Regions from separate parts of the Homo sapiens genome. Here all the other regions are linked to region 2. Evidence: fine-mapped expression QTL. A gene starts in region 2. Each other region holds a variant in brackets. All regions are shown on one strand. Distances are between the middles of the regions. Region 1 overlaps CSNK1G2 (casein kinase 1 gamma 2). Region 2 holds the start of BTBD2 (BTB domain containing 2). Region 3 overlaps CSNK1G2 (casein kinase 1 gamma 2). Region 4 overlaps CSNK1G2 (casein kinase 1 gamma 2). Region 5 holds the start of LOC124904610 (a long non-coding RNA gene). Region 6 overlaps SCAMP4 (secretory carrier membrane protein 4).

What was found. PIP is the estimated chance that this variant, and not a neighbour inherited with it, causes the effect. A credible set is the group of variants that fine-mapping cannot tell apart.
Region 1: its variant is the best candidate, but not a certain one, in a credible set for the expression of BTBD2 in thyroid (GTEx, PIP 0.66).
Region 3: its variant is the best candidate, but not a certain one, in a credible set for the expression of BTBD2 in stomach (GTEx, PIP 0.53).
Region 4: its variant is the best candidate, but not a certain one, in a credible set for the expression of BTBD2 in prefrontal cortex (CommonMind, PIP 0.74).
Region 5: its variant is the best candidate, but not a certain one, in a credible set for the expression of BTBD2 in sun-exposed skin (GTEx, PIP 0.67).
Region 6: its variant is the best candidate, but not a certain one, in a credible set for the expression of BTBD2 in whole blood (TOPMed, PIP 0.86).

Annotation. Positions count from the first base shown.
Region 1 is chr19:1,968,002-1,972,601 of GRCh38, forward strand. CSNK1G2 (casein kinase 1 gamma 2) reads left to right here. Exons shown (of 12, transcript NM_001319.7): 2 at 1,507-1,958. The coding sequence starts at 1,772. Among named protein-coding and RNA genes, the nearest start is that of CSNK1G2-AS1, 16 kb to the left of the region's middle. The variant C/T (reference allele first, on the strand shown) is at 2,021.
Region 2 is chr19:2,013,610-2,018,209 of GRCh38, forward strand. It overlaps BTBD2 (BTB domain containing 2), which reads right to left and starts at 2,105. Exons shown (of 9, transcript NM_017797.4): 1 at 1,688-2,105. The coding sequence starts at 2,094. LOC107985278 (a long non-coding RNA gene) reads right to left here. Exons shown (of 4, transcript XR_001753845.2): 3 at 3,574-3,691; 4 at 2,736-3,485. RefSeq lists silencers at 1,702-1,751, 1,762-1,911.
Region 3 is chr19:1,956,784-1,961,383 of GRCh38, forward strand. All of the region lies in intron 1 of CSNK1G2 (casein kinase 1 gamma 2), which reads left to right. Among named protein-coding and RNA genes, the nearest start is that of CSNK1G2-AS1, 4.5 kb to the left of the region's middle. The variant G/A (reference allele first, on the strand shown) is at 2,152.
Region 4 is chr19:1,980,340-1,984,939 of GRCh38, forward strand. It overlaps CSNK1G2 (casein kinase 1 gamma 2), which reads left to right. Exons shown (of 12, transcript NM_001319.7): 12 at 1-999. Among named protein-coding and RNA genes, the nearest start is that of CSNK1G2-AS1, 28 kb to the left of the region's middle. The variant G/A (reference allele first, on the strand shown) is at 2,343.
Region 5 is chr19:1,985,656-1,990,255 of GRCh38, forward strand. It overlaps BTBD2 (BTB domain containing 2), which reads right to left. Exons shown (of 9, transcript NM_017797.4): 5 at 4,349-4,546; 6 at 1,845-2,037; 7 at 1,511-1,598; 8 at 1,175-1,321; 9 at 1-994. The coding sequence ends at 833. LOC124904610 (a long non-coding RNA gene) reads left to right here and starts at 2,037. Exons shown (of 2, transcript XR_007067086.1): 1 at 2,037-2,839; 2 at 3,303-4,600. The variant C/T (reference allele first, on the strand shown) is at 2,493.
Region 6 is chr19:1,921,957-1,926,556 of GRCh38, forward strand. It overlaps SCAMP4 (secretory carrier membrane protein 4), which reads left to right. Exons shown (of 7, transcript NM_079834.4): 6 at 1,114-1,231; 7 at 2,152-4,057. The coding sequence ends at 2,328. Among named protein-coding and RNA genes, the nearest start is that of CSNK1G2, 17 kb to the right of the region's middle. The variant G/A (reference allele first, on the strand shown) is at 2,788.

The DNA of each region.
Region 1 (4,600 bases), 46 kb before region 2:
CCCTTCAGTTCTGCAGGTGGGGGCTCCTCCCTCCTCCCCAGGCTGCCCCCACCACCCTTCAGTTCTGCAGGTGGGGCTCCTCCCTCCTCCCTCCTCCCCAGGCTGCCCCCGACCACCCTTCAGTTCTGCAGGTGGGGCTCCTCCCCAGGCTGTCCCTGACCACCCTTCAGTTCTGCAGGTGGGGCTCCTCCCTCCTCCCTCCTCCCCAGGCTGCCCCAGACCACCCTTCAGTTCTGCAGGTGGGGCTCCTCCCTCCTCCCCAGGCTGCCCCCGACCACCCTTCAGTTCTGCAGGTGGGGGCTCCTCCCTCCTCCCCAGGCTGCCCCTGACCACCCTTCAGTTCTGCAGGTGGGGCTCCTCCCTCCTCCCTCCTCCCCAGGCTGTCCCGAGGCTCCTTGCTGGGGACCGTCCTGCCTCCCGTCGGGGCCTGCGCTGAGACTGGGCTCCATGCCAGCCGGGGCTGGCTGGCCCCCTCGCTCCAGAGAGCGACCTGCACAGAGTCCCCTCAGCCATGAGCCCCTGTCCAGACACGGCGTTTCTCTGTGGGTGGCAACAGGCTCTGGGGCCCTCAGCTCTGGGCTCGGGAGCATTTAAGGTGGTGCAGACTCAGCGAGGGGCTGTGGGCTGGGGTCCCACCATCCCGGGAGCAGGGACTGCGTGTTCCTTCTCAGGACCAGAGGCTTCTGTCTTTTCCCCTGGGGTAGAAGTTTGCTGCCTGCCCCGTGCCCAGCCTTGCTTAGGTGGCTGTTGGCTCCGCTGGTCCCTCAAGCCCCGCCATTCCCTCCTCAGCTCCGCTCTGCACCGAAGGGGATGGGTCCGACCCAGCCTGGCATCATCACAGCCTCGAGTGGCGTCCAGCCTGCCCCGCTCCACCAGTGGCTGCTGGAGAAGAACCCGAGCCTGGGTCAGGCCCTGGGGGCTCCTGCATCAGTGCCCGGCTCTCCGGGGCCTCCTGCCCTCCGGCCCACTCTCCCCGCTCTCAGCATCAACCAGTCGCCATGGGCAGGGGCAGCTCGGTGGCTCCTGTGTCCCTGCCTCGGGCCTGCCTGCTGTCATCTGCCTCCCTCCCTCTTTCCCAGAGCGGCCCTGGGCCTGGATACGGGGACTGTTGTGTGGCCCCTCTGTGTCTGGGGGTGCGACTGCTCCCCTGGCTTCAGGATCCTCAGGGCTTCTACCCGGGATTGGCAGTCATGCTCTCCTGGCAGTACACTCTCCCACCTGTGCCACCCACCCACCCACCCACCCATCCCGCTTTACAGAAAGCCCCCTGAGCCCTACCCTGTTCGTCCCCAGGCAGCCACGCCGAGATCTCTGGCCTCTGATGTCATGTGATGTGTGCTTCCCAGCTGGGTTCCGGGCAGGGACGGTGCTCATCATGCCCCGGCCTTCAGAGCTCCTTCCAGCCCAGCAGTCTCCTGGCTGTGTCCTCTGTGGCCTCCGCCCCGTGTCCTCAGTGGCCCCGCGGGGGCCTTGCCGGTGCTCACCTGTGCCTCTGTTTCTCTGCAGCTGTGAGCCGTGAGCTTTGAGGCGGTGGGATGTGTCAGCAGAATGTCTCCTGCCCCCGAGAGCGACCCCGAGGCCACTGAGAAGAGCAGCGCGGCCTGGCCGGCCCGAACGCCTGCGTCTCAGTAGCTGGGAGCCACGGGCCCACGCCCGCCCACCGGCCGCAGTGATGTTCTAGCCACAGAGGAGCCAAGACCTCAGGTTTCCAGAGACTTGGGATTTGCACGGCAGCAGAGTCACCGTGGAGAGGCCAGGGTATCACAAACTTATGGATTTTGACAAGAAAGGAGGGAAAGGGGAGACGGAGGAGGGCCGGAGAATGTCCAAGGCCGGCGGGGGCCGGAGCAGCCACGGCATCCGGAGCTCGGGGACCAGCTCGGGGGTCCTGATGGTGGGCCCCAACTTCCGCGTCGGCAAGAAGATCGGCTGCGGCAACTTCGGGGAGCTCCGCCTAGGTGAGGCCCTGCTCGGTGGTAGGTGGGGTCGGGAGGCTGCTGGCAGGGCCGCCCCGAGTCAC[C/T]GGAGCCTCTGGTGGGGCCGCCCGGGGTCACTGGAGCCTCTGGCGGGGCCGCCCCATGTCACTGGCAGGTGCGTTGAATCATCAGTCCGTCGTGGTGCGAGTGCCACTTCCCTTCGAGGAGGTTCTGTGGGGAGAGTGGGTTTCTGGCCCTGTCACCTTTTCGGGAAACAGTTCTGTTGGGAGGCAGGTGGCCCAGAGCAGGCCAGGCCACGCCGCAAGGAGCCCGATGTTAAGTTGTGAATGACTTTCATGGCCCATGTGCACGCTGGGCGAAGCCCCGGCTTTAACGGCAGGTGCCTGCCCGGCACTCAGCTCGTGGGAGGTCTTGGCCAGCCCGGAGCTGGCGTCAGGTGGCTGGAGTGACTGTTCTGTGGTGATGATACTGCTGTGTGCCACTCCCAGCTTCACCATGTAAAAGGCCGCACCTGGCCCACCTGGCTCCGTCCCTTCTGCTCACACCAACCTCTCCCGGGTCGGGGTCTGATTGCCCGGGCAGGCGTGAGGAGCAGGGCCGAGGACTGAGCCTCTCATTGGCCAGGGGTGCCTTCCCTGGGGTGGGGGTGCCTGAAGATGACCATCAGGCCTGGGGGAGCTCTGAGCACCTTTGGGGCCGTTCCCAGTCTGTGATTAGCTGGGCCAGGGAGCTGAATCATCCCCGGAAATGTGGTTAAATTTATTGCTGGTGCTGCCGGAGCTCCTGCGGGAGGGCATTTGGCGTCTGTTGCTGGGGTTGTCCGGGGAACCCAGGTGCACCCCCAGTCAGTGTCTGTCGTGGTGGGAATCAGGGTCCCTGGGAAAGAGCGCAGGATGGGCAGGTCCGAGAGGCCACGGCAGTGGATCGGCCTCACGTGGGCACCCATGGCAGGCGGTGCCCATGGCACCCATGGCAGGCACTCAGCCCGATGAGGTTGTCAGATGAGGGAAACAGGCCCACGCAGTGGTCATGATGTGGCTGCATCTTCAAGAGCGGCCGCCCAGGGGCGCAGGAGCATGGGCTGTGGCGGCCTGGACCCCAGGCATGTTTTGTGGCCCTGCTTCCCACCTCCTGCCTCACTTTACCCACCTGTTAAATGAGGATGAATGGTAGTTGCCACTCGTGGGCAGAAGGGTTCAGCAGGCAGTTATGCGGCAGAAGTGTGTGTCCTATGAGTCAAGCAGCTTCTCCCAGGCGAGGGCAGCTGTTGGGGTCACTGTTGGCTGTTTCTGTGTTCCCATTGGTTGCACCCAGGGCCCCAGGAGGCCGGGGTTTGAGACCCCACCCGAACCAGATCCCACCCCAGCCCTTGGGGAGGCTGCTGGGATTCCACCTCTGCGCAGAGGCTGGGCTTGGGCCACGAAGCCTCACTGCCGGTCCGACGGCCTGTGGCTCAGGAGGCCCGGGCTCCGTTTCTCAGCCAAGAGACTGAGCTTTTCCCAACAGGAGCTGTGGCCTCCCAACCCCGTGTGTGTGTGCACGCTCAGACACACGTGCAGACACATGCAGACATGTACACACGTGCCCACAAATGCACATGTGCACACTAAAGCACACGCACACAGGCGCACACAGCCACAACCACGCATACACAGGCACACAGGCTCATCTGCACACACATGCCTGGCACAGCCCCGTGACCTGCAGCCTGCGGGGTATGGCTTTTGGGAACCCAGATGGCTATGTGGGTCCTGTCCTTGGGCGGCGGTTGCAGGCTGCTGAATAGTGCAGGTCCCTGTAGGCAGATGAGAGTGACGTGGGTGATGCCAGCTTTTTTTTTTTTTTTTTTTTTGAGACGGAGTCTCGCTCGGTCACCCAGGCTGGAGTGCAGTGGCGCAATCTCGGCTCACTGCAAGCTCCGCGTCCCGGGTTCACGCCATTCTCCTGCCTCAGCCTCCCGAGTAGCTGGGACTACAGGCGCCCGCCACCACACCCGGCTAATATTTTGTATTTTTAGTAGAGATGGGGTTTCACTGTGTTAGCCAGGATGGTCTTGATCTCCTGACCTTGTGATCCACCCACCTCGGCCTCCCAAAGTGCTGGGATTACAGGCGTGAGCCACTGCGCCCGGCCTGGTGACGCCAGCTTTTACTGAGTTGCGGTTTGCGCTCTCTTCAGCCTGGCATTTTGGGCGCTGTGTGCTTCGCGGGCAGCCGCACATCGTGGTTTCTCAGGGGTGCCGGGAGGCCGTCCATCGGAGGACACACCAGCCCTTCTTCATCTGCTCCCAGCGCAGGGACGCTTGGCTGTTTCTGGATTTGGGCCCTTCTGAATAGAACTAACTGCCCAAATAGAACTGAATAGCACTGGGCTCCTCGAGCACTCCACGTCCCCAGCACTCAGGACTGTTGGTGGCTTTGATGTTGAGCCTGTTGTGGACTCCGGTTGTTGAATGTTGTTCCGTTGTCTAGAATGTTCTAGAATGTGTCGTTTTTTCTGTTTTTAAGGTTTTTATCTTTGATTTAAAATATTGACTATGCTCTCCTTAGATGAGGCTTTCTGTTTTTATCCTGCTTGGGATCCACTGACTTCTTGGATCTCTGTGTTGGTACTTTTTCAAATTAACTTTGGAAAAATGTGAGCCATTATTTCATGAAACGTTTTTC
Region 2 (4,600 bases):
GTGGGAGGTGGCAGGGCCCAGGGGTCTCTGGCTGAGGTGGGGGTCCGGGGCTGGAGGGGCTGTGGATGGTAGTCTATGATCTGGACTGCAGGGCGGGCAGGGGGTATCCCTGGAGGGGAGCAGCATGGTTTGAAGGTCTCTGATCCAGATCATGTGCTGAGCCTGGGGGTCTCCGGTGGGGGTCACTGGGTCTGGAGGCAGCAGGGAGGACGCAGGGAGCAAGGCCTAGGGGTCTTGGCGCACAGGGGTGCGGGTGGGAGTGGCAGGGTCCCTGGATGGTGGGGGAAGAGGGAGGGGTCTTGTGGTCATGGGTGGGGGTGGAGGAAATAGCACGACCCCTGAAGGGAGGGGTCCTGGAGTTCAGGAGTCATAGGTTGGGGGTTACGGACTGAGGTGGTGAGGACTGGGGACGGGGGGTCTCAGGTGAGAGCGGAGAAGTCTCTCCATCCTGGGATGCAGGGGTGACACACTTGAGTGTAGTGGGGTCCCAGGGGGCCCCGGGAGTAGAGAGTGGAAGGGCAGTGGGCAGGGGTGAAGGACCTGGGGAAGGAGGGGTCCTGGAGAGTCCCTGGGTACAGGGACGGAGGGGTCACCAGTAGGGGTCCCAGGGGGAGAGGGGCGGCAGGCAAGGGTGCAGGGCCTGGGGATGGAGGGGTCCTGAGGATCCCCGGGTATAGGGATGGAGGGGTGTGGCATGTGGGGTCATGGGTCCTAGAAACAGTGGGTTGGGGTCCTGGGAATGGAGGAGCAGATAGGGGTACACGTCCCAGGGTTGGAGGGTCACAGGAGTCCCAGGGGTGGTGGGTGGGGGTGCAGGGCCAGGGCATGGAGGGGACCCAGGGATGCAGGCCAGGTGGGGTCCAGGGATGGAGGGGCCTGGGGTGTAGGCAGGGGTTCCAGCCGGAGGTGGAGGGGCCCAGGGATCTGGGGGCAGAGGTGTCTGGGGACCTGGGGTGCAGGGAGGGGTGAGGTCCAGGGATGGAGCGTCCTGGGGATGGAAGAATGGAGGGTCCTAGGGTGCAGGCGGGGGGTGGAGGGCCCTGAGGATGGGGTATTCAGGGTTCTGGGGTGCGGGCTGGGTGGGGTTTGAGGATGGAGGGGCCCAGGGGCTCCAAGTGCAGGCCGAGTTGGAGGGTCCCAGGAACGGAGGGTACCGGAGTGCAGGCTGGGTGGGTCCAGGGACGGAGGAGAGCAGGGGTCCCAGGGGTACAGGGCCTGGGATCCCGGGGAACAGGCTGGGGGCGCAAGCCAGAGGTGGAGGATCCAGGGGGGCCTGGGGATGGAGGGGTGCAGAGGCCCAGAGTGCAGGCCTGGTGGGGTCTGGGGACAGAGAGGTGCAGAGGCAGGGACAGAGGGGTGCAGAGCCCAGGGAACTGGGTGGAGTCTAGGGATGGAAGGGTGCAGGCCCCGGGGTGCAGGCCGGGTCGGTTTCAGGACCGGAGGGGTGCAGGGGTCCCAGGGACAGAGGGGTGCAGGGCCTCAGGTGCAGGCCCCGGGGTGCAGGCCGAGTTGGGTTCGGAGCCTGAGGATGCAGGGGTGCAGGGGTCCCGGGGACAGAGGGGTGCAGGGCTCGGGGATGGAGGGGTGCGGGGGTCTCGGGGACAGAGGGGTGCAGGGCCTCAGGTGCAGGGCCCGGGCAGCAGGCTGGGTGGGTCGGGGCCAGGGCTGGCGGGGTCGGGGCGCCCACCTGTGCGCGGGGATGCGCTGCGAGCTGAGCCCCTTGCCCACCAGGAAGTGCACGTCGCACAGCACCTCGTTGTTGAAGAGGAAGGCGAAGCGCTCCTGCACGGTGGGCTTGCTGGCCTGCCAGTTGTACGCGGCCTCGCGCTGCAGCGCCGCCGCCCCCGGGCCCGCCGCCTCCTCCGCCCGCTCCGCGCCCGCGGCCTGCGCGTCTGTCCCGGGGCCCGGCGGGGCGGGCGGCGTCGGCCCAGGGGCGGCGGCGGCGGCGGCGGCGGCGGCGGCGGCGGCGGCCGCGTTGCCGGGGGCCGGGGTGGCGGCGGCGTTGGCGCTGGGCCCGGGACTGCCCCCCGTGCCCGGGCCGACCCCGACCCCCGGCGGGCACGACGCACGCCCGCCGCTCCCACCCGCCGCCATTTTGTGGCTGCGGCGTGGGCGGGGGAGGGGAGGAGGGAAGGAGGGAGGGGAGGAGGGAAGGAGGGAGGGGAAAGGAGGAGAGTAGGGGGAGGAGGGGGAGGAGGGAGGGGAGGGGAAAAGAGGAGGGAGGGGAAAGGAGGGGAGGAGGGAGGGGAGGGGAAGCGGGAAGGAGGGAGGGGAGGAGAGGGAGGGGAAAGGAGGGGGAAGGAGGGAGGGGAGGAGAGGGAGGGGAAAGGAGGGGGAAGGAGGGAGGGGAGGAGAGGGAGGGGAAAGGAGGGGGAAGGAGGGAGGGGAGGAGAGGGAGGGGAAAGGAGGGGGAAGGAGGGAGGGGAGGAGAGGGAGGGGAAAGGAGGGGAGGTGGGAGGGGAGGAGGGAGGGGAGAAGGGAGGTGAATGGGGGAGGCTGTTGCAGGGGAGGGGACGGGGAGGAGAGGGAAGAGTAGGAGGGGCCTGTAGAGGGGAGGAGCTGGTGGAAGACCTCTTGCTCCACTCCCTAAGCATCCTGACCTGAAGCCCAGACTCCAGACCGAGGTCCAGAATTTGGGGTCCAGGCACCAGGCCCCAGACTCCAGACCGGGAATCCTAAACCCTGGAGCACAGACCTCAGTCCGGGATCCCAGGCCTCAGACCTTGAATCCTAGATCCCAGACTCTGAACCCCAGACTTCAGACTCCGGATTCCAGATCCCATACCTCAGACCCGGAACCCCCAACCCAAAGACCAAGCGCAAACTCCAGACCCCAGACCCCGGACCCAGGTGGCGGGCCTGCTCCGTGGCGCAGGCTCCGCTGTACAGAGACATAGCCTGAGGCCGGGAAGCTGCGGATGAGCGAGCAGGATGCAGGCCACGTGCACTGACACTCAGCAGACGCCCAGCACCCTCTCCAGGCCAGGTGTGGGGGGTGGTCAGTGTGGACGGAGCTGGGACTCCCCCAAAACGCTTACTACATACATAATGTCAAGGTAGACAAATGCCACAAAGATTGAGGAACCAGGTCGGGCGCAGTGGCTCACGCCTGTAATCCCAGCACTTCAGGAGGCCAAGGCGGGGGGTGCATCACCTAAGGTCAAGAGTTGGAGACCAGCCTGGGCAACATGGCAAAACCCTGTCTCTACAAAAAATACAAAAATTAGCCAGGCGCGGTGGCTCACGTCTGTAATCCCAGCACTTTGGGAGGCCGAGGCGGGCGGATCACCAGGTCGGGAGATCGAGACCATCCTGGTGAAACCCCATCATGGTGAAACCCCATCTCTACTAAAAATACGAAAATTAGCCAGGCTTGGTGGCGGGTGCCTGTAATCCCAGCTACTCGGGAGGCTGAGGCAGGAGAATCACTTGAACCTGGGAGGCGGAGGTTGCAGTGAGCCGAGACCGCGCCATTGCACTCCAGCCTGAACAACAAGAACAAAACTCCGTCTCAAACAAACAAACAAACAAACAAAACAAAACAAAAAAAAAACTAGGCGTGGTGGTACGCACCTGTTGTCCCAGCTACTCAGAAGGCTGAGACGGAAGCATCACTTGAGCCTGGAAGGTTGAGCTTTTGATGAGCTATGACTCCACCACTGCCCTCCAGCCTGGGCAACAGAGCAAGATCCTGTCTCGAAAAAAAAAAAAAACAAAGAAGAAAAAGAAAATAGGGTATTAAAAAAACCCAAGTGATAATGCTATTTTCAGTTCTCCAGAGTGGGTGGTTGAGGTAGTTACAATTTTTTTTTCTTTTTTCTTTTTTCTTTTTAGAGTCTCCCTCTATTGCCCAGGCTGGGGTGCAGTGATGGCGATCTTGGCTCACTGCAATCTCAGCCTCCTGGTTCAAGCAATTCTCCCGCCTCAGCCTCCTGAGTAGCTGGGGTTACAGGTACCCGCCACCACGCCTGGCTAAGGCTAATTTTTTTTTGTTTGTTTGTTTTGTTTTTGAGACAGTCTCGTTCTGTCGCCCAGGCTGGAGTGCAGTGGCGCGATCTTGGCTCACTGTAAGCTCCGCCTCCCAGATTCACGCCATTCTCCTGCCTCAGCCTCCCGAGTAGCTGGAACTACAGGCGCCTGCCACCATGCCTGGCTAATTTTATATGTGTGTGTGTGTATGTATATACATATATATATATATATATATATTTTTTTTTTTTTTTTTTTTTTTTTTTGAGACAGTCTTGCTCTGTCGCCCAGGCTGGAGTGCAGTGGCACGATCTCAGCTCACCACAACCTCCGCCTCCCGGATTCAAGCGATTCTCCTGCCTCAGCCTCCTGAGTAGCTGGGATTACATGCACCACCACGCCCGGCTAATTTTGTATTTTTAGTAGAGACGGGGTTTCTCCATGTTGGTCAGGCTGGTCTCGAACTCCCGACCTCAGGTGATCCGCCTGCCTTGGCCTCCCCAAGTGCTGGGATTACAGGCGGGAGCCATCACAGCCGGCCTCTAAATGTCAACTTTCTTATCTCTCATCTCATACATTTGCAAAGTGACATCTTTCCAGCCAAATCCTAAAGAGGACATCTGTGCAGTCC
Region 3 (4,600 bases), 57 kb before region 2:
TGAGACAGCCGTCCAGAAGCTTCTGTCTCCGGGCCAGGAGGACACCCCAGAGAGCCCCAGGAGGCTCGTTCCGGAATTTAGGGCTCAGCCTCGATGAACCTGGCCAGGCGGCGGTTGATGGGTTAATTCAGTTAATCACACATCACTCAGGGTTTCTCAGCAGAAGGAACTGACCAAGCCAATGGCTCACCTGGAAGAGAGAAGGAGGGAGGAGGAGGGGATTCTGCAGAGGGAAGGCTGGTGGTGGCGCCCCCCTTCGACGGTCGTGCCCTGATGCTGCGTGGCTTAAACGGTGCCACCCGGAGATTGGTGGGCGGGATTGGGCCTCTGGGGTCCCCGGCTGTGGAGAGGGCAAGGCAGGGGCGGCTAGAAAGAAAAGCAACCTGGACGCAGGCCCCACCTCCCTCCAGGCAGCCCCACAGGCCCGAGGGCCACCGTGTCAGGAGGGATAGCCTACACGGAGAGCAGGCCAGTGGCCCTGTGCCCAGGAGGGTGCCTTGCCCAGCCTGGAGGCCCGCAAGGATGAGAAGCAGTGTGTGCCCGGGAGGTCACGTGGGCACCACAGACGAAAGTGGAGCCGGGGGAGAGATGTCCCGGGATGCACCAGGCGCTCGTGCAAACCAAGTGCTGAGCAGAGAGCAGCCTGGGAGAGAAGGGGGCTGCCCCGAGCGGCTTGGGTGGCCGGGCCTGTGGGAGACCTTGGGTTTGCTGTTAGGAGGGACAGTGAGCGCAGGCACCTCTCTCTCCACTTCATGTTTGTCCTCACTGAGGGAGCCGAGCAGATGCCTTTGCCCCTGCAGGTCCCCCATGTCCCCTCGCCCGGGGCGCGCTCCACAGGCTAGGCCACTTTCACAGCTCACCACACAGGCAGAGACTGGAGGGTGCGCAGGACCCCGGGTGACTGCAGACGTGGGCACAGAGGGGCCTCTGAGGGCGTCTGGCGGCATTTGAGCAGCTGCCAGATCTCCCCTGGAAACACTGGGGTGTGTGCTCGGTGGGTGCCGTGTGTGGGGGGTATGTGCTCGGCGGGCGCCGTGTTTGTGGGGTGGGAGCTAGGCGGGCGCCGTTTATGTGGGGTGGGCGCTCGGCGGGCACTGTGTGTGTGGCACGGCCACTGCTTAGGGCCCCCTGGAGCTGCGGGGCACACGGCAGAGCCAGCCTCATGTCACCACGTGCTTCCCCCGTGTGCAGGGAGGGGTTGGAGGTGTGCGCTTGTCTTGTCCGGAAGCCGGGTGTTGGGACGCGTCCTGACGACGGCACTGCCCACATCCTAATGGGACACCTGAGGGACATCGGTGGCTGAGTAAGGGGCCCCTCCCGAGCAGGTCTGGAGGCGTTGGAAGCACAGCGCAGCCTCATGGGGCACCTGCCTGCTCTGCCTGGAATTGAGGGGCGATTGGGACTCCCACTGCCCCCACCAAAGCCTGTGCCCCTGATGTCTGTCCAGAGCACGGCTTCCTTCTCGGTGGTTCCCAGAGGCCGCTGGGCCTCGCTTCGTCCTTTTTGGGCAGCGAGTGTGTATGTTAGGGGAACAGGAGCCCGGCAGGGCCGTCTTGCAGGGCTCAGCAGTGGGGGCCGTGGGGTTGGTGCACCAGGGCAGGAGAGCTGCCCGGCTCCTGCTAGGTGTCTAGAGGGCCTCAGCTCTCCCAGGCACTGTCCCCTGTCCCCCCATCTCCCCTGTCCCCCCCATCTCCCCATCCCCCCGTCCAGGGCCGCAGCAGCTCAGCTCTCCCAGGCACTGTCCCCTGTCCCTCCGTCCCCCCGTCCAGGGCTGCAGCAGCTCAGCTCTCCCAGGTACTGTCCCCCGTCCCCCTGTCCCCCCGTCCCCCCGTCCAGGGCCGCAGCAGCTCAGCTCTCCTAGGCACTGTCCCCCGTCCCCTCGTCCCCCCATCCAGGGCTGCAGCAGCTCAGCTCTCTCAGGCACTGTCCCCCCTCCCCTCGTCCCCCCATCCAGGGCCGCAGCAGCTCAGCTCTCCCAGGCACTGTCCCCCGTCCCCCTGTCCCCCCATCCAGGGCCGCAGCAGCCCAGCTCTCCCAGGCACTGTCCTCCGTTACCCCGTCCAGGCACTCTCCCCCCGTCCCCCATCCCCCGTCCAGGCACTGTCCCCCCTCCCCCCGTCCCCCCCACCCCCGTCCAGGGCCACAGCAGCC[G/A]GTATTGAGTGTGGGTATGAGCTTTGGCTCTGGGTCCTGAGCGTCCCTTCCCCAAATTCCCCATGTGGCTTCCCAGTCTGCATCTCCATCTGCTCCCAGGGTGCGAGTTGGTTTTTGTATTAATAACTGAGGTGTGACACTCGGGCTGTACCCGCTAGCTGTGTAACTCATGCAGCTCAGTGCCTTTAGCTCATCATGAGGCTGTGTCTCTGTCTGTGCCATCTAATAGAGGATATTTTCATCCTCATGGCGAGAAGGGATGGATTTGTTTTCCTCGTGAAGTCGGTGACGTTTGCTTTTCAGGTTTGGTTGGTGGCCTCCAGTCTCTTGTCCTCAACGAGGGTTTTGGCAGCTCCCTCTCAGTGGCCTGTGAGTGTCCCCACTCCCTTGTCTGGGAAAGGGCTGGAGCTCTGGGGCTCACAGAGAGGGTGGGTGTGATGTCTTTTTCCTGACGTGGCATCGGGGTGTCTTACCTGCCCGGACACCTGCCTGCGCAGGGTAGCACAGACCCTACAGGCTGCGGCTGAGCCCCCAGCACCCGCCCCACCTTTAATGCTCGGCCCCCAGCACCCGCCCCACCTTTAGTACCACCCTGAGTCCCCCAGCACCTGTGCCACCTTTAGTGCCACCGTGGGTCCCCCAGCACCCGTCCCACCTTTAGTGCCACCCTGAGTCCCCCAGCACCCGTGCCACCTTTAGTGCCACCGTGGGTCCCCCAGCACCCGCCCCACCTTTAGTGCCACCGTGGGTCCCCCAGCACCCGTCCCACCTTTAGTGCCACCCTGAGTCCTCCAGCACCTGTGCCACCTTTAGTGCCACCGTGGGTCCCCCAGCACCCGTCCCACCTTTAGTGCCACCCTGGGTCCCCCAGCACCCGCCCCACCTTTAGTACCACCCTGAGTCCCCCAGCACCTGTGCCACCTTTAGTGCCACCGTGGGTCCCCCAGCACCCGCCCCACCTTTAGTGCCACCCTGGGTCCCCACATCCCTGGCTACACATTGTGGCTCCCACAACCCCGTTTGGGTTCACGGTCCTCCTGCAGGACTCTCGGAACTGGGGAGTGAGAGTTTGTTCCCTGCTGTTGTAAAGGGCATAACCTGGGGGAAGCCAGGCAGGCAGAAACCCCCACCCACGTCCAGGGCCCCATGTAGGGTCCGGAGCTTCCCTGCCCTCCCTGGTGCCAGTCCTGACCCTACCACAGCCGAATGTCTGCGTCAGCACAGGGGCGTGTAGGAAGAAAAGGCGTCCTGCTTAGGAGATAGGTACATCCGGGACCTGGGGCCTTCTCGCCCTCAGTCCACAGGGAAGGTCCCCCGGATGGCGCCTGCCCCTTCCCCCTCCCTACCCGGCTTCTGCACGCAGTCCCCTGAGATGGCCCACACGTCCTGCCGCTTTCTGGCAGGGGAGAGCTGAGGCCTGTGTCTTCAGGATGCTGCCTCTCGGGCAGCCTCCAGCCCTCGTCGAGAAAGGCAGGCAGTGTGGCGCGAGCAGGCTGGCCTCAGGCGGGGCCTCTGGGCAGTGTCCCCTCGGGATGTTTGCCGTGCTGGATCTCACACCCGGCTCTGACACGCTGCCGTGTCCCCCGTGTGCCTGCGCCTGGGGTCTCCGTGTGTGTGTCTGTGTACACGCATGTGGTTTTGCTTTCTTGTGGGCTGGAAAATCTAATAGTAGTCAGGGCGTGGTGGTTGACACCTATAATCCCAGCACTTTGGGAGGCTAAGGTGGGTGGATCACTTGAAGTCGGGAGTTTGAGACCAGCCTGGCCAACGTGGCAAAACCTTGTCTCTACCAGAAATATCAAAAATTAACCGGGCATGGTGGCACATGCCTCTAATCACAGCTACCTGGGAGGCCGAGGTAGGACAATCACTTGAACCCGGGAGGCGGAGGCTGCGGTGAGCCGAGATCGCACCACTACACTCCAGCCTGGGCGACAGAGCGAGACTCTGTCTCAAAACAAAACAAAATGCAGGCACGGACGTTTCAGCCCCCTCTTCCTGTGGATGCTGAGAGGGTTTCCAGAAGAAGGAGAATGTCCCCGTGCTGGTGGCTCATCCAGGTGTGGGCCGGTGTGCGGCGGGGCGTGGGCAGAGGAGAGGCTTCGGGCTCCGGTTTCCTCTCCTGTGGATGCGTCGCCCCCGCATGGTGGTCCTCTGCGGAAGTCCCCCTGTCCGTCCCGTTGGCAGCCGCAGTGGAAAGACGGATGGACGGGCTGTGACAGGGACAGCCCAGTGTGACCCCAGCCCTGGCCGTCGCGGTTGTGGCATTCTCGCTGTCAGGGGGCTGTTCCCGTGGCTCTCATGGCTGTGGAGGGGCGTGGAGGGGGCGGTCCCCATGGCCAGAACCTGGCCGTGGCGGGTGGAGGACTTGAGGCCGGCTCAGTGGTCAGCGCTGCTGCTTGTTCCCCTACACAGAGGCGTTGGGTGGAGCTGCCTCAGGTATCCCTCC
Region 4 (4,600 bases), 33 kb before region 2:
CGCGCCTGGCTCAGGCGGCCCCACCCCCGGGACGTGGGGTCACTTCCTTCATGTAAGACTTTGGCCGAAATTTCTACACCTGTGTCTAGTCCTCCCCTCCAAGAGCATTAACTATTTAAAACAAGGAAAAGAGGAAAAAAAAAACAGAGGCCCGCCCTACCCCACTCCTGCCCCTCCGTTTCTTTGCTGAAGTGAGTAGTGTGATCCTGGAGGCCCCCCGGCCTGGCCCCGCCCCGCCAGCCGCCCCCGTTAGCGTCATAAAGTCCAGCTTGTCTCCCTCGATCCAAAGGCCGTTTTCTCGAGGGGAGGGCAGGCCCGGCCTGGAGGGGTGCTGTGGAGCTGTCTTGCCCAGGCCCTCCTGGGAGGGGGACAGGCATTGTTGCCAGGGGTGAGGCCGTGCCCCAGGCCTCCCCGAAACCAAAGGGGAAGGCAGGGGTGGGGCCGTGGCTGAAGCCGGCTCCCCAACCAAAATGCTGCACCAAAGCTCGGGCGCCGCGGGCACGGCTGCTGCAGTCTCTTCCCAGCCTGGCCCTGGCAAGGGGCGGGTGGGCGCTGCCAGGCGGGTGCTTCTCGACGCACTTGCTCCCGGAGGCTGCGCCCCGGCGCCTGGAACCCGAGGTGGGAGGACCGGTTGGTGTCACCCTGCTCGGCCCTCAGCCCTGCCGCGTGGGGCGCGTGGGCACGGAGCTTCCTGCCTCTCTGCTCCGACACCCGGCAAGCAGCCGGAGACAAAACGCCTTAAAGCCCCCGGCCCAGCCCTGCAGGTATATTGCAGGGGCCTGGGGGCGGCCCTGGACTGGCGGGCGGTTCCCCAGTGGGGTGCCCTGGAGGCTGCCGGGCAGAGTGGAGCAGCTTGGGGCCGTGCCCAGGGCGGTGGCTGTGAGTCTAGTTTTTGCTTTACCAAGTGTACAGAAATGGCATTTACGTTTCTCTGATGCTCCCTTGAAGCCATAGAATTTAGGGGCTTTTTTAAAAAAATAAAAGAAAAATGAAACCAAACCCAAGTGTAGAGGGATTTGTCTGGGCTTTCCACGAAGCTTGACCTGGAACGGGCGTTGCTTCCATCCCCATCCTGCCTGTCCGGGACGAGTCCGGAGCGGCTGGCGGCCTCCGGTAACAGAAACCGACTGATGAGGCGGAAGGTAAGGAAGATGGAAGCAGAGGGCAGAGCTGGGCTCTGTCTGGGGAGAGGGCAGGAGACGAGTGTTCACGTACCATGGAAAGGGGAAGTCACACACATGCGACTTGGCCCCGGGGGTCCCGTTCCCCGACACTACACAAATATACCTGAAAGCCTCAGCGACGGGGCCCAGGCAGGATGGTCCTGGCTGCTCTGACGGCGGAAGGCCTCCTTGACTCCCTCTGTTCACGCAGCAGGGCAGAAAACATCTCCACGGGGGCCACGACACTGTGAAGGGAATCAGCAGTAGCTCCCAGAAGAACAGCGGAAACTGCAGGCAGGTGAAGACCTTGGCAGCACTAGCCCCGGCTCCGCCCCGTGCCTTCTCCCCAGACAACACCCCATACCCGGCAGCAAGGGTGGAAGACCAGTACCACCGTAATATGTTGTGACAAAGCAGAAATAATGCACCTGTAAGAGTCAGATGGCAAGAGGGAAATGGAATGAGCTCATCGATGGTTTTCCCGGCAGTAGCTTGGGGATAAGGACTACTTGTCATGTGCTTTATATATTTACCCACATGTTAACCTTTTCTGATGCTCTTCATTTCTTTCTGCTGATCAGAAATTACATCTGGGACCGGGCAGGGTAGCTCACTCCTGTAATCCCAGCACTTTGGGAGGCCGAGGCTGGCGGATCACGAGGTCAGGAGTGCGAGACCATCCTGGCTAACATGGTGAAACCCTGTCTCTACTAAAAATACAAAAAATTAGCCGGGCGCCTGTAGTCCTAGCTACTGGGGAGGCTGAGGCAGGAGAATAGCGTGAACCCGGGAGGCGGAGCTTGCAGTGAGCCCAGATCTCGCCACCGCACTCCAGCCCGGGCGACAGAATCCCAAAACTACCTCTGGGATAATTTTCAGCCTGAAGAACTTCAATATTTCTTACAGTGCAGCTTTTTTTTTTTTTTTTTTGAGACAGGGCCTGGCCTAGGCTGGCGTGCAGTTGCACAGTCATAGCTCCCTGGAGCCTCCACCTCTTGGGCTCAAGCGATCCTCCCACCTCAGCCTCCCAAGTATCTGGGACCATAGACGTGCACCACCACACTCAGCTAATTGTTTTGTTCTGTTTTGTTTTTAGGTAGAGATAGGGTTGCCTGTCTGGCTCTGTTGTCCAGGCACTTGCGGAGGACGAGGTGGGAAAGTGACCCTGGGATGAGAGGC[G/A]TGAGCCACCACGCCGGGCCGAGTGCAGCTTTGTCGGTAACAAATTACAAATTAGCATTTGTTCCCTGAAAAAAATATTTATTTCACCTTTCTTAATAAGGATGTTTTTGCTGGTAGTGGCATTCCAGGTTGACAAAGTGTTTGTTTGGGACAGAGTCTCGCTGTCACCCAGGCTGGAGTGCATTGGCGTGGTCTCGGCTCACTGCAGCCTCCACCTCCCGGGTTCAAGCAGTTCTCCTGCCTCAGCCTCCCGAGTAGCTGGGATTACAAGCGTGTGCCACCACACCTGGATAATGTTTGTATTTTTAGTAGAGTCGGGGTTTCACCATGTTGGCCAGGCTGGTCTTGAACTCCTGACCTCAAGTGATCCACCCACCTCGGCCTCCCAAAGTGCTGGGATGACAGGCATGAGCCAGCATGCTCCACTGACAAAGTTTTTAAAACGCGGCGGCTCACGCCTGCAATCCCAGCACTTTGGGAGGCCGAGGCTGGTGGATCACAAGGTCAGGAGATCGAGACCATCCTGGCCAACACGGTGAGACCCCATCTCTACTAAAAATACAAAAAATTAGCCGGGCGTGGCGGCAGGCACCTATAGGCCCAGCTCCTCGGGAGGCTGAGGCAGGAGAATGGCGTGAACCCGGGAGGCGGAGCTTGCAGTGAGCCGAGATTGCACCACTGCACTCCAGCCTGGGTGACAGAGAGAGACTCTGTCTCAAAAAAAAAAAAAAAAAAAAAAAAAAAAAAATTGTGGGTCAACGTCTTTCATTCATTTTGGAAAATTCTTGGCTGTCATATAGCTTGAGTCTCATTCTCTCTCTCTCCTTCTGGGACTCCACTTACACATACGTTCAACCCTTTGGCTGTGTCACGTATCTCGATCTGTTCTGTTTTTCCATTGTTTTTACTCACTGTGCTTCACCTTGCATGTTTGTTTGTTTGTTTTTTGAGACAGAGTCTTGCTGTGTTGCCCAGGCTGGAGTGCAGTGGCGAGATCTCGGCTCACTGGCAAGCTCCACCTCCCGGGTTCACGCCATTCTCCTGCCTCAGCCTCCCAAGTAGCTGGGACCACAGGCACCTGTCACCACACCTGGCTAATTTTTGTAGTTTTTTTTAGTAGAGACGGGGTTTCATCATGTTAGCCAGGATGGTCTTGATCTCCTGACCTCGTGATCTGCCTGCCTCAGCCTCCCAAAGTGCTGGGATTACAGGCATGAGCCACCATACCTGGCTTTTTTTTTTTTTTTTTTTTTTTTTGAGACAGTCTTGCTCTGTCTCCCTGGGCTGGAGTGCAGTGGCACAATCGTGGCTTACTGCAACCTCTGCCTCCCAGGTTCAAGTGATTCTCCTGCCTCAGCCTCCCAAGTAGCTGGGATTACAGATGCACGCCACCACGCCTCGCTAATTTTTGTATTTTTAGTGGAGACGGGTTTCGCCATGTTGGCCAGGCTGGTCTCGAACTCCTGACCTCAGATGATCCACCTGCCTCGGCCTCCCAAAGTGCTGGGATTGCAGGCATGAGCCACCACGCCCAGCCTGTCATTTTTAAATGGATGCTGGACGTTGTAAATGACAGATGGTAGAAGCTGGTGCTGATGTTTCTTCACAGGGCTGTGTTTTCTTTTGGCAGGGTCCAGCGTAACAGCAGCCCAGTGAGACCCTACCAGGGTTTTGTTTTGGAGTGATGACGGCTTCCGTTCTGTCCTCCCCACAGGAGTGTTGCCCTAGCTCCTGGTGGGTGGCCCTTCTGGTGTCTTCATTAGAAGCCCAAGGTGTTTCCTTTTAATATGTATTTTTTTAGAGATGGGGTCTTGCTGTGTTGCCCAGGCTGGTCTCAAACTCCTGGCCCCTAGCAGTTCTGCCTCAGCCTGCCAAAGTGCTGGGATTGCAGGTGTGAGCCAGCACGCCCGGCCCCCAGGGTGTTCGACAAGGCCCCCTACCCCGCCAGCCTCCATCTCCATTGCCTGCTCCCAGCACTGCGCACTGTGGAGATCTGCTCAGCCTTCAGCCTCCTGGCAACTGTTTGCGGCTGGCTTTTTTTTTTTTAGACGGAGTCTTGCTTTCTCGCCCAGGCTGGAGTGCAATGGCACCATCTTGGCTCACTGCAACCTCCATCTCCCAGGTTCAAGCGATTCGCCTGCCTCAGCCTCCCAAGTAGCTGGGATTACAGGTGCCTGCCACCATACCTGGCTAATTTTTGTGTTTTTAGTAGAGATGGGGTTTCACCATGTCGGCCAGGTTGGTCCTGAACTCCTGAC
Region 5 (4,600 bases), 28 kb before region 2:
AGTATGTACAGGCGAGCAGTGCTCCTGGACCCGGTCGGGGCCGGCTGGGGCCCCATTCTGCGGCAGGGGAGCTCTGGGGCACAGGGTCTGAGTCCCATCTTGGGCTGCAGGGACCGCGAGGGCCGTCCAGGGAGGCTGGACAGCGGGGGCCTTTATCTGGGCCCATCAGGTGGATGAGAACGGACACTGCAAACCGCTCACCACCTGGGCCAGGGCTAGGCCTATCCGGCAGGGGCCGTCCCCACACTGAATCCTGCGTGCGCAGAACTCAAGCCGGCATCCAGGCAGTGGGAACGCCCCGCAGGCTGGGCTTGGGTGGCCTCGGGCACGTGACAGGTGGGGCCCGTGTCCTGATAAACGGACAGGAACAAAAGGAACGCAAGGTCTGGGACCCACGGCTCTGGGAGCAGCGCCACCCAGGCTGGCTCCTAGCAGAGAAATGGGAATCGCAAATGCATTGCAATGTGCAGTGAAGAGACGCGAGGGACGCCCGCGGCGCACCGCCGGCAGACGACGTGGGCAGGCGCCCTGAGCTGCGGGTCCGTGGGCCCTGGCCCAGGCCGGCACAGCCCTGTCCCTAGTCCTGAGGGATTGTCTCCACAGGGCCTGGCCACTGGCCTGGCCACCTCCCCGGCTGCCCTGATCCAGCAGCCACACTCGTGGTGAACACAGGGCAACCCCGTCCTGATGCTGAGAAAGGTGGCATGGAGTGGACAGACGGCCTGGGGGACACTGGGCCTGGCACCGCGTGGTGGGGGGGCCCCAGCAGCAGATGATGGCCTGGGGCTGCGGCTATCCCCACGGAGGGAGGGCGGTGTCGGTGTCGGGCAGCCTAGGTGTAGAAGATGACCTCGGGGATCTGGCCGTCCTCCACGGATGTGCCATTGTTGTTCCCGGCCGCGTAGCAAAAGGTGAAGCAGGTCTTGGCGCCCGTGGTGGGCGACTCGTGTGTCACCTTGCGCAGGCCTTTGGTGCCGTAGTGGGAGTCTGGGCCCTGTAGGGAATAGGGGTACAGTGAGGTCAAGGACCACCAGGCTGGGATGCCCCAGGTGTGGACAGGGCAAGGCCCCGACTGGGCCAGGGTGGCTGCCTCTGGAGAGTGTGTGCTGTGCCCCGGTGGCTTCAGGATGGGCCAGAGACTCCCACGGAGGGACCCCTGTCCCCGGCGGCGCACCTTGAGCGTGGCACAGGCCGTGTAGTTGACGTTGGGCAGCACCTCCACCGGCTCCTTGAACATGACGCGGAAGGTGCTGGCTGAGCCGTCGCAGCTGAAGCCCGTGTCGTTCTGGCCCAAGACGGTGTTGCTATCGGTGTGAATAATCTGCGGGGAGGTGGGAAGTGGGAGGCTCAGGCCTGGGGAGGGCCAACGGGGACCCCTCGAGGCCCAGCCCACCTGCCCAGGGTGGGGGCAGCACAGGGACCAGGGCCGGGGGTTCAGCCAGGGTTCCATGGAGGTGGAGAGAGGACATGGGCCTGAGTGGGGCCTGGGGATGAGGCTTGGGGCTGGTACCTGGATGTTCACTTGGTAGTCGGTGGGCCCGTGGATGGATCCATACAGCCCAAATCCCACCACGAAGATGCGCTTGTTGACTGAGAACCTGCCGTGGCAGATGACAGGCAGCAGCGTGGATACCCAGGGATAGCCTAAGGTGAGCTGGGGCGAGCCCACCCCCATGCCCGGTCCCCTCCATCGTCCCTGAGTCCTCCACCCCCATGCCCGGCGGCCCCCCCGCCGTCTTCATCATCCCTGAGTTCTCCACCCCCATGCCCGGCCCCCCATCTCCGTCATCCCCGAGTCCTCCACCCCCATGTCCGGACCCCCCCGCCTGCACCCCAAGCCCCACCTGATGCGGTCACTGGTCCCGCTGTAGCCCCAGCGACTCTCCACCTGCTGGAAGCGGTTGATGCTGCACTCCTTCCCACGCAGGCAGCAGCGGGGCCGGTCAATGAACTCCACTCGTGGCTTGGGGTTGACGGTGAAGTGCAGGAAGAGGCTGACCACCTCGCGGTCCACCAGGATGCCCGACTGTGCGGGACCTGCAGCACAGGGAGGGTGTGGGGGAGGGCCGGGCTGCACCCCAGGATCCCGAGTGCCTGGGAGGACACGCTCCTTCCCCCTAAGATGTCTGCGTCGGACTTTCAAGGTGCAGGGACCTGGGCAGCCCCTCCCCGGGGGACTAGCCACCAGCCATGGCCCCTGCTGCCTGGGCTTTTAGGGAGAGGTCCCAGGGCACAGACCAGAGGCCGACAGATACGCTCACTCAGGGGCGATGCCTCAGGGTCTGACAGATGCACTCACTCAGGGGTGATGTCTCAGGGTCTGGCCCCACTGTAGGGACCACCCGTCACTTCACTGTGGGTGGGGGCGGGGGGCTCCACTGCCTGTTCTCTCAGGGCCATTGGCTGGGAGGGGTCACTGTGGCTCCCTGCTAGGCCTGTACCCCCCAGGCTGCAGCCCTGGCTTCTAGAAGCAGTCTGGGGGTTCCTCTCCA[C/T]GGTGGGCCCTAGGCAGACACCTTCTCAAGCGCTTACACCCCCAGGGGTGATGGCTAGCGGACCCCAGGCAGACTCCAAGAGCCAGGCTCTTAATCCCGGTGCAGAGATGTCACAGGCAGAGGGACTGTGCATGGGATGTGAAGGGGCTCTGGGTAGGGAGGGGAGGCCAGGAGGGGCAGAATTGGGGGTCCACCATCCACCCCCAGGAGTGCCAGGACACAGCACCCTCTGCTCTAATGAGAGCAGCCCTGCCTGCCTGAGACCTAATCACTCATCAACCAAGGTGGGCTCAACTCCGCATCGCTCAGCTGCAAGCCAGCCCAGTGCAGACACAGTTTAATAACTGGTGAGAAACAGACCATTATGGGTTAAGTGAATCAGGAAGACTGAGTATCAAAACTCAATAAACAATGTTAACAATTTTTTTTTTTTTTGAGACGGAGTTTCGCTCTTGTCCCCCAGGCTAGAGTGCAGGACGGAGTTTCGCTCTTGTCCCCCAGGCTAGAGTGCAGTGGCGTAATCTCGGCTCACCGCAACATCCGTCTCCAGGGTTCAAGCAATTCTCCTGCCTCAGCCTCCAGCATAGCTGGGTTTACAGGCATGCGCCACCATGCCCAGCTAATCTTGTATTTTTAGTAGAGACGGGGTTTCACCCTGTTGGTCAGGCTGGTCTCAAACTCCTGACCTCAAGTGATTCCCCCCATCTTGGGCCTCCCAAAGTGCTGGGATTACAGGAGTGAGTGACCCAGCCTGGCCAACAATTGTATATATTTTTTTATTTTAAATGGAGTTTCACTCTTGTTGCCCAGGCTGGAGTGCAGTGGCGCGATCTCGGCTCATCACAACCTCCACCTCCTGGGTTCAAGTGATTCTCCTGCCTCAGCCTCCCGGGTAGCTGGGATTACAGGCATGAGCCACCACACCCAGCTGATCAACAGTTGTATTTTTAAGAAGTATGTATCTAGCCAGGCTCGGTGGCCCATGTCCATAATCCCAGCACTTTGTGAGGCCGAGATGGGAGGATGGCTGGAGCCCAGTTCATGACCAGCCCAGGTGACATAGCAAGACCCTGTCCCCACAAAAAAATACAAATATAAGCCTTGTGTGGTGGTGGCACCTGTGATCCCAGCTACTCCGGAGTCTGAAGCAGGAGGATCACTTGAGCCCAGGAGGTCGAGGCTGCAGTGAGCTGTGATTGTACCACCGCACTCAGCCTGGGCGACAGAGACCCTCTTGCTAAATCTGGCGACCTTCAGCTAAGCAAGAGCGGGGGCCGCGTGGACCTGGGGAAGGCCAGACGGCGAGTGTGCACCAGCCCCAGGGCTCTGTCCCAGCCCCTTCTGGAAAGTTCCAGGCCTGTTTTGCTCCAGAGCTGGATGGCGTCAGGCAGTGAGCAGCCACGAGGGCAGGAGGCATCGTTAGCGCTGCCCCTTCACGTCACCCTGGAACCCAGGCCCTGCAGCAGGGGACCCCAAGGCCCACTCGGGCGCATGACAGCCACCCCGGCCATGTCAGAGCCCTCCTGAGCTCGTCACAGACACTGGTACCTGCACCAGCAGGTAGCACAAGGGCGCGAGACGGGGACTCCCTTCCCTCCTGGGAAGATGCCACCAAAACAGCTGGACAGACACGAGAGGCGGGGTCTGGCAGTGTGCACGGTGGGGACAGAGCCGGGCCGGGGCTAACAGATGGCCCTGTGGACGCGTCCTCACAAGCCAGGTTTCTTCCTATCTGTATATGCCAGGCATCTGCCAGGCTTTCCGCAGTGAACTCGGGGGCACTATCCTCGGTACCCAGATGCCCACCTGTGTGCCACTCCCCTCCCAAACCAGCCCCTGAGCCCGAGCTCTGTTACCTGCAGCGAACTCCTCGATGGTCATGAGCGGGAAGCGAATGAGGCCCAGGGCCTTGCCCAGAACCTTCCGCCTGTTCTCTGGCGTCACCTGCAGCTGCTGCCGCTGACACTCGGCCTCGGACCAGCGGACAACGGCATTGAACAGCCGCACCTCACGGATGCCCAGTGTGTCGCGCTCCAGGACAGCCACCAGCGTGTCTGTGGGGTGGAGGAAGGGGCTGCGTGAACACGACACCCACATGCCCACCCTGC
Region 6 (4,600 bases), 92 kb before region 2:
CCCGTGCATGTGTGTGCATAAGCTCCCCGGACACATCCGGGGGTGTGGGTCCTGCGGGCTGCCTGTGCACCAGGGAGGGGAGTCAGCAGGAGAGAGACTGTACGTCGTGCCTGCCTTTAAGTTCCCTGAATTTTAAACCCTGTGGTTTCATCACCTGTTAAGACAAAAATCTCAAAATGACTGTTTTCTGCCTCCTGGGTCTCAAAGGCAGGTGCAATGCCCAGAGGCTGGTCCTGCACAGAGGGACCCAGGGCGTGCTGGCCTTCCCAGTGTCCCACTGGTGGCTGATCTAAGCAGTGCTTTCCCTCGTTTTTTTATTTTGAGACAGAATCTTGCTCTGTCCCCCAGGCTGGAGAGCAACGGCACGATCTCGGCTCACTGCAGCCTCCCGCTTCAGCCTCCCAGATAGCTGGGATTACAGGCATGCGCCCTCATGCCTGGCTAATTTTTGTATTTTTAGTAGAGACGGGGTTTCACCTTGTTGGTCAGGCTGGTCTCCAGTTCCTGGCCTCAAGTGATCCGCCCGCCTCGGCCTCCCAAAGTGCTGGGACGACAGGCGTAAGCCTCTGCGCCCGGCCTCCTCATTGTTTCTAATGGTCCCTCAGTGCCCACCGGGTGATGGTGGCAGATTTTCCATCCGCATTGCTCCCGGACATGCGGATGTAGGTTTCAGCAGTTCCCATCATTAGACACAGTTGCCGTAGGCTGGGTTCTTAGTAGCAGGCTCAGTGGGGCCTTTGAGTCTTTCCATGGCTGGTGCCCGCCGGACTCACTGAGGGAAACTAATGGGGAAGCACTGGTCTCCATTCCCTGCACGCACAGCCCACTGCTGCGATGGTGAAGGGATAAGGTTGTGTTCACGCGTCGAAGTTTGTGTCCACTGCACACGCGGCTCACTGCTGCGATGGTGGAGGGATAAGGTCGTATTCACGCGTTGAAGTTGGTGCCTCTCAGTATCGCTTTATGTTTGTTGGCCACTTGGTCGTCCTTGTATGAGCTGTCCACTCCTTGTTGATTGGCCAGAGCTCTTTACATGGGGAGGACCATGGGCCGGACCATGGGCCCTCATCCAGCAGGTGTGCAGGCACCCACGCACTCTCTTGTCCCTTGCAGCGGCTGGCTGTCGGCAATTGGATTCTTCCAGTACAGCCCGGGCGCTGCCGTGGTCATGCTGCTTCCAGCCATCATGTTCTCCGTGTCGGCTGCCATGATGGCCATCGCGATCATGAAGGTGAGTCCTCGGCTTTGTGACGTCCAGCCCTTACCCCTTCTCCATGAACCTCGTCACCCAACTGTCCCAGGTGGGTGAACGTCGAGGAGCCGGGCCCTCTCCCCACGGTGTCACGCAGGCCGCACTTCATCCCCAGCAGTGAGCTGGGATGACAGCAGGAGGCACTGTCACCAGGGACACTCCCAGGGACCCAGCGCCTGGGTTCCTATGGGGCCAGTCCTGTGGCCCCCTGGGCCGGGAGTCCAGACTCCAGAGGGAAGCAGGGGTTGTGTGTAAACCGCAGTGTTTGCAGGAACAGCTGAGGCCCTGGAGCTGTCCTGTCAGTGAGGGTGGGGCCCCTTGCAGGTTCCCGGTCACAGTTTCCATCTGAAGATAGCGGAAGTGTTGAGCTGGGCTCATAACAGAAACTTTCAGTTACAGCAAAATGCTTTTTTTTTTTTTTTTTTTTTTAGACAGAGTCTCGCTCTGTCACCCAGGCTGGAGTGTAGTGGTGCGATCTCTGCTCACTGCAAGCTCCGCCTCTGGGGTTCATGCCATTCTCCTGCCTCAGCCTCCCGAGTAGCTGGGACTACAGGCGCCCGCTACCGCACCTGGCTAATTATTTTGTTTTTGTATTTTTGGTAGAGACAGGTTTTCACCGTGTTAGCCAGGATGGTCTCAATCTCCTGACCTCGTGATCCTCCCGCCTCGGCCTCCCGAAGTGCTGGGATGACAGGCGTGAGCCACCGTGCCCGGCCTATTTTTTATATTGTAGTAGAGACAGGGTTTCACCATGTTGTTTGGACTGGTCTCGAACTCCAGAGCTCAGACAGTCTGTCTGCCTCGGCCTCCCGAAGTGCTGGGATGACAGGCGTGAGTCCCCGTGCCCGGCCGCCATGCTCATTTTCTGTCTTCTGCCTCCCTGTCCTCTGTCCTTGCAGGTGCACAGGATCTACCGAGGGGCTGGCGGAAGCTTCCAGAAGGCACAGACGGAGTGGAACACGGGCACTTGGCGGAACCCACCGTCGAGGGAGGCCCAGTACAACAACTTCTCAGGCAACAGCCTGCCCGAGTACCCCACTGTGCCCAGCTACCCGGGCAGTGGCCAGTGGCCTTAGAGGGAGCCTGCCCTGCCCCCACCGCCCACCACCTCCTCCCCTTCATTCCTGCTGCTACCCCTGGTCCCGAGGGCTGGGAGTACCTGGGGCCCCATCCCCCCAGCTGGGATGGTGGAAGCCGGTGGTGGCCACGGACCGCCCCCCTCCTGCCAGGGCCACAGAACCCGTGTTCATCTCATCCGAGAGCGGAGTTCCTCACAAGCACTCCCCAGCAGCCCTTGGCCTCTGCCGTCCACAGGACGCCCTCTTGCTCCCGGAAACGTGTGGTCACCCGCCGTCCACTGCACGGCTGGTACGGCCTTGTCTTCAGGTCTCGAGGCCTGACTCCGGGGGACAGGTGGCAGCAGGTCGGCCGCCCTCCCGTCCTCCCAGAGCTGCTGGCGCTGAGGTCAGAGCGGGTCTGATGGGGAGCTCCGTCTCACCGGCCACCCGCCGTCACCATGGCAGATGCCCTTGGCC[G/A]GAACTAATAAGAGGCGTCGGGGCCAGCTTCCGGTCCCCTGCAGTGATAGAGGGCTTGGTGCCTAGCTGAGTCCTCGCTGTCCCCGCCATCCCCTGATCTGTGCGGCTCCAGCCTCGCCCCCTCCCCACGTGCACCATACCTGGGGAGTTCCTGGTCCAGGGTATCCTGGGGCCACCCTCCCTGCCTCCAAAACAGGGATCCCTGGCAGGCTGTCTTTCCACGCCCCTGAGTTCAGAGTCGGGGACCCAGGCCAGGTCGGGAGCACAGCCGCTCCCCAAACCCAGCAAACCGGCAGAGAGCCGGTTTCCCAGCAGCCGGAGCCCTGCAGGAGAGGCCTTTGTGTTTTGTTTTGTTTTGTTTTTTCTCTTTTGAGACAAGAGTTTCACTCTGTCGCCCAGGCTGGAGTGCAGTGGTGTGATCTCGGCTCACTGCAACCTCTGCCTCCCGTGTTCAAGCAGTTCTCCTGCCTCAGCCTCCCAAATAGCTGGGATTACAGTTGCCTGCCACCACGCCCAGCTAATTTTTATATTTTTAGTACAGATGGGGTTTCACCATGTTGGCCAGGCTGGTCTCGAACTCCTGACCTCAAGTGATCCACCCGCCTTGGCCTCCCAAAGTGCTGGGATAATAGGTGTCAGCCACCGCGCCCAGCCTGGAGTGGCCTTTTATGAGAGGGGACCCGTCAAATCTGTGCCTTATGGAGGGGTCCGGCAGCGGCCACAATTGTCTTGTCCCCTCACCCCCCAACTCCCCCTGGAACACCTCTCCCAGGCAAGACATTTTCACAGCACCATTCACAACGGTTGGGCCAAAAAGAAACTTTTCCTTCATCATTTCCTGCACTCGCTGACCACAACTTTGGACACCCCAGGCTGCCACCCCTCCCCACCCGTTCACCCCCAGGATGCTGTTGCTGTAGGACGCCTGCTGCCCTGGAGCCCTCCCCAGGATGTGAGCCAGTCCCCTCGCTGGTACGGAATGCCGCTGGGTGCCCGGAGGCGGCCATGGTGTCTCGATGGACGGCAGCCAGGATGGAGCACCCATGGGTCTCACGGCCATGCTTCAGGGTCTTCAGGTCCTGCCCCCGGCCAGTCTGCCAAGAGGCACCCCCTTCCCCAGCCTCTCGCCTGCACTGATGCAGACAAAATCTCACCTGGCAGGCCCAACCCCCCCCCACCCCTCCCCCGCCGTGTGTGGCCCCTCGCCGCATCGTTGGGGTTTTGTTATGTGAAAATATCCTGGAAATAAATACATGTTTCTGCACTTAGAGCCAGGGACCTGCCGCGTTTGTGCTGTGAGCATGTGTGGTTCCCCCAGGCCGTCTTCTCCCTTGGGAGACCCCTCAGCATATGGCCTCTGGCAGGATGCCCCCCTGCAGCGCCTCCTCCCACCCAGGCCCCGGGTGCCCTGTAGCCAGGTGTGCCCAGGGCTGACCCTGCCATCCTGGCCAACGTGGTGAAACCCGGCCTCTACTAAAAATACAAAAATTAGCCGGGCGCGGTGGCGGGTGCCTGTAGTTCTAGCTACTCAGGAGGCTGAGGCAGGAGAATTGCTTGAACCCGGGAGGCGGAGGTTGCCGTGAACCCAGATCGCGCCACTGCACTCCCCACCGGCTCAAAAAAAAAGGAAACTTGCACAGATGGAAAGCCAGTGTCACTGGCCCTACGTAAAAAGCAAACATCGGCCAGACGCAGTGGCTCACGCCTGTAATCCCAGCACGTTGGGAGGCCGAGGTGGGCGGATCATCTGAGGTCAGGGGTTCAAGACCAGTCTGGCCAACATAGTGAAACTCTGTCTCTACTGAAAACACAA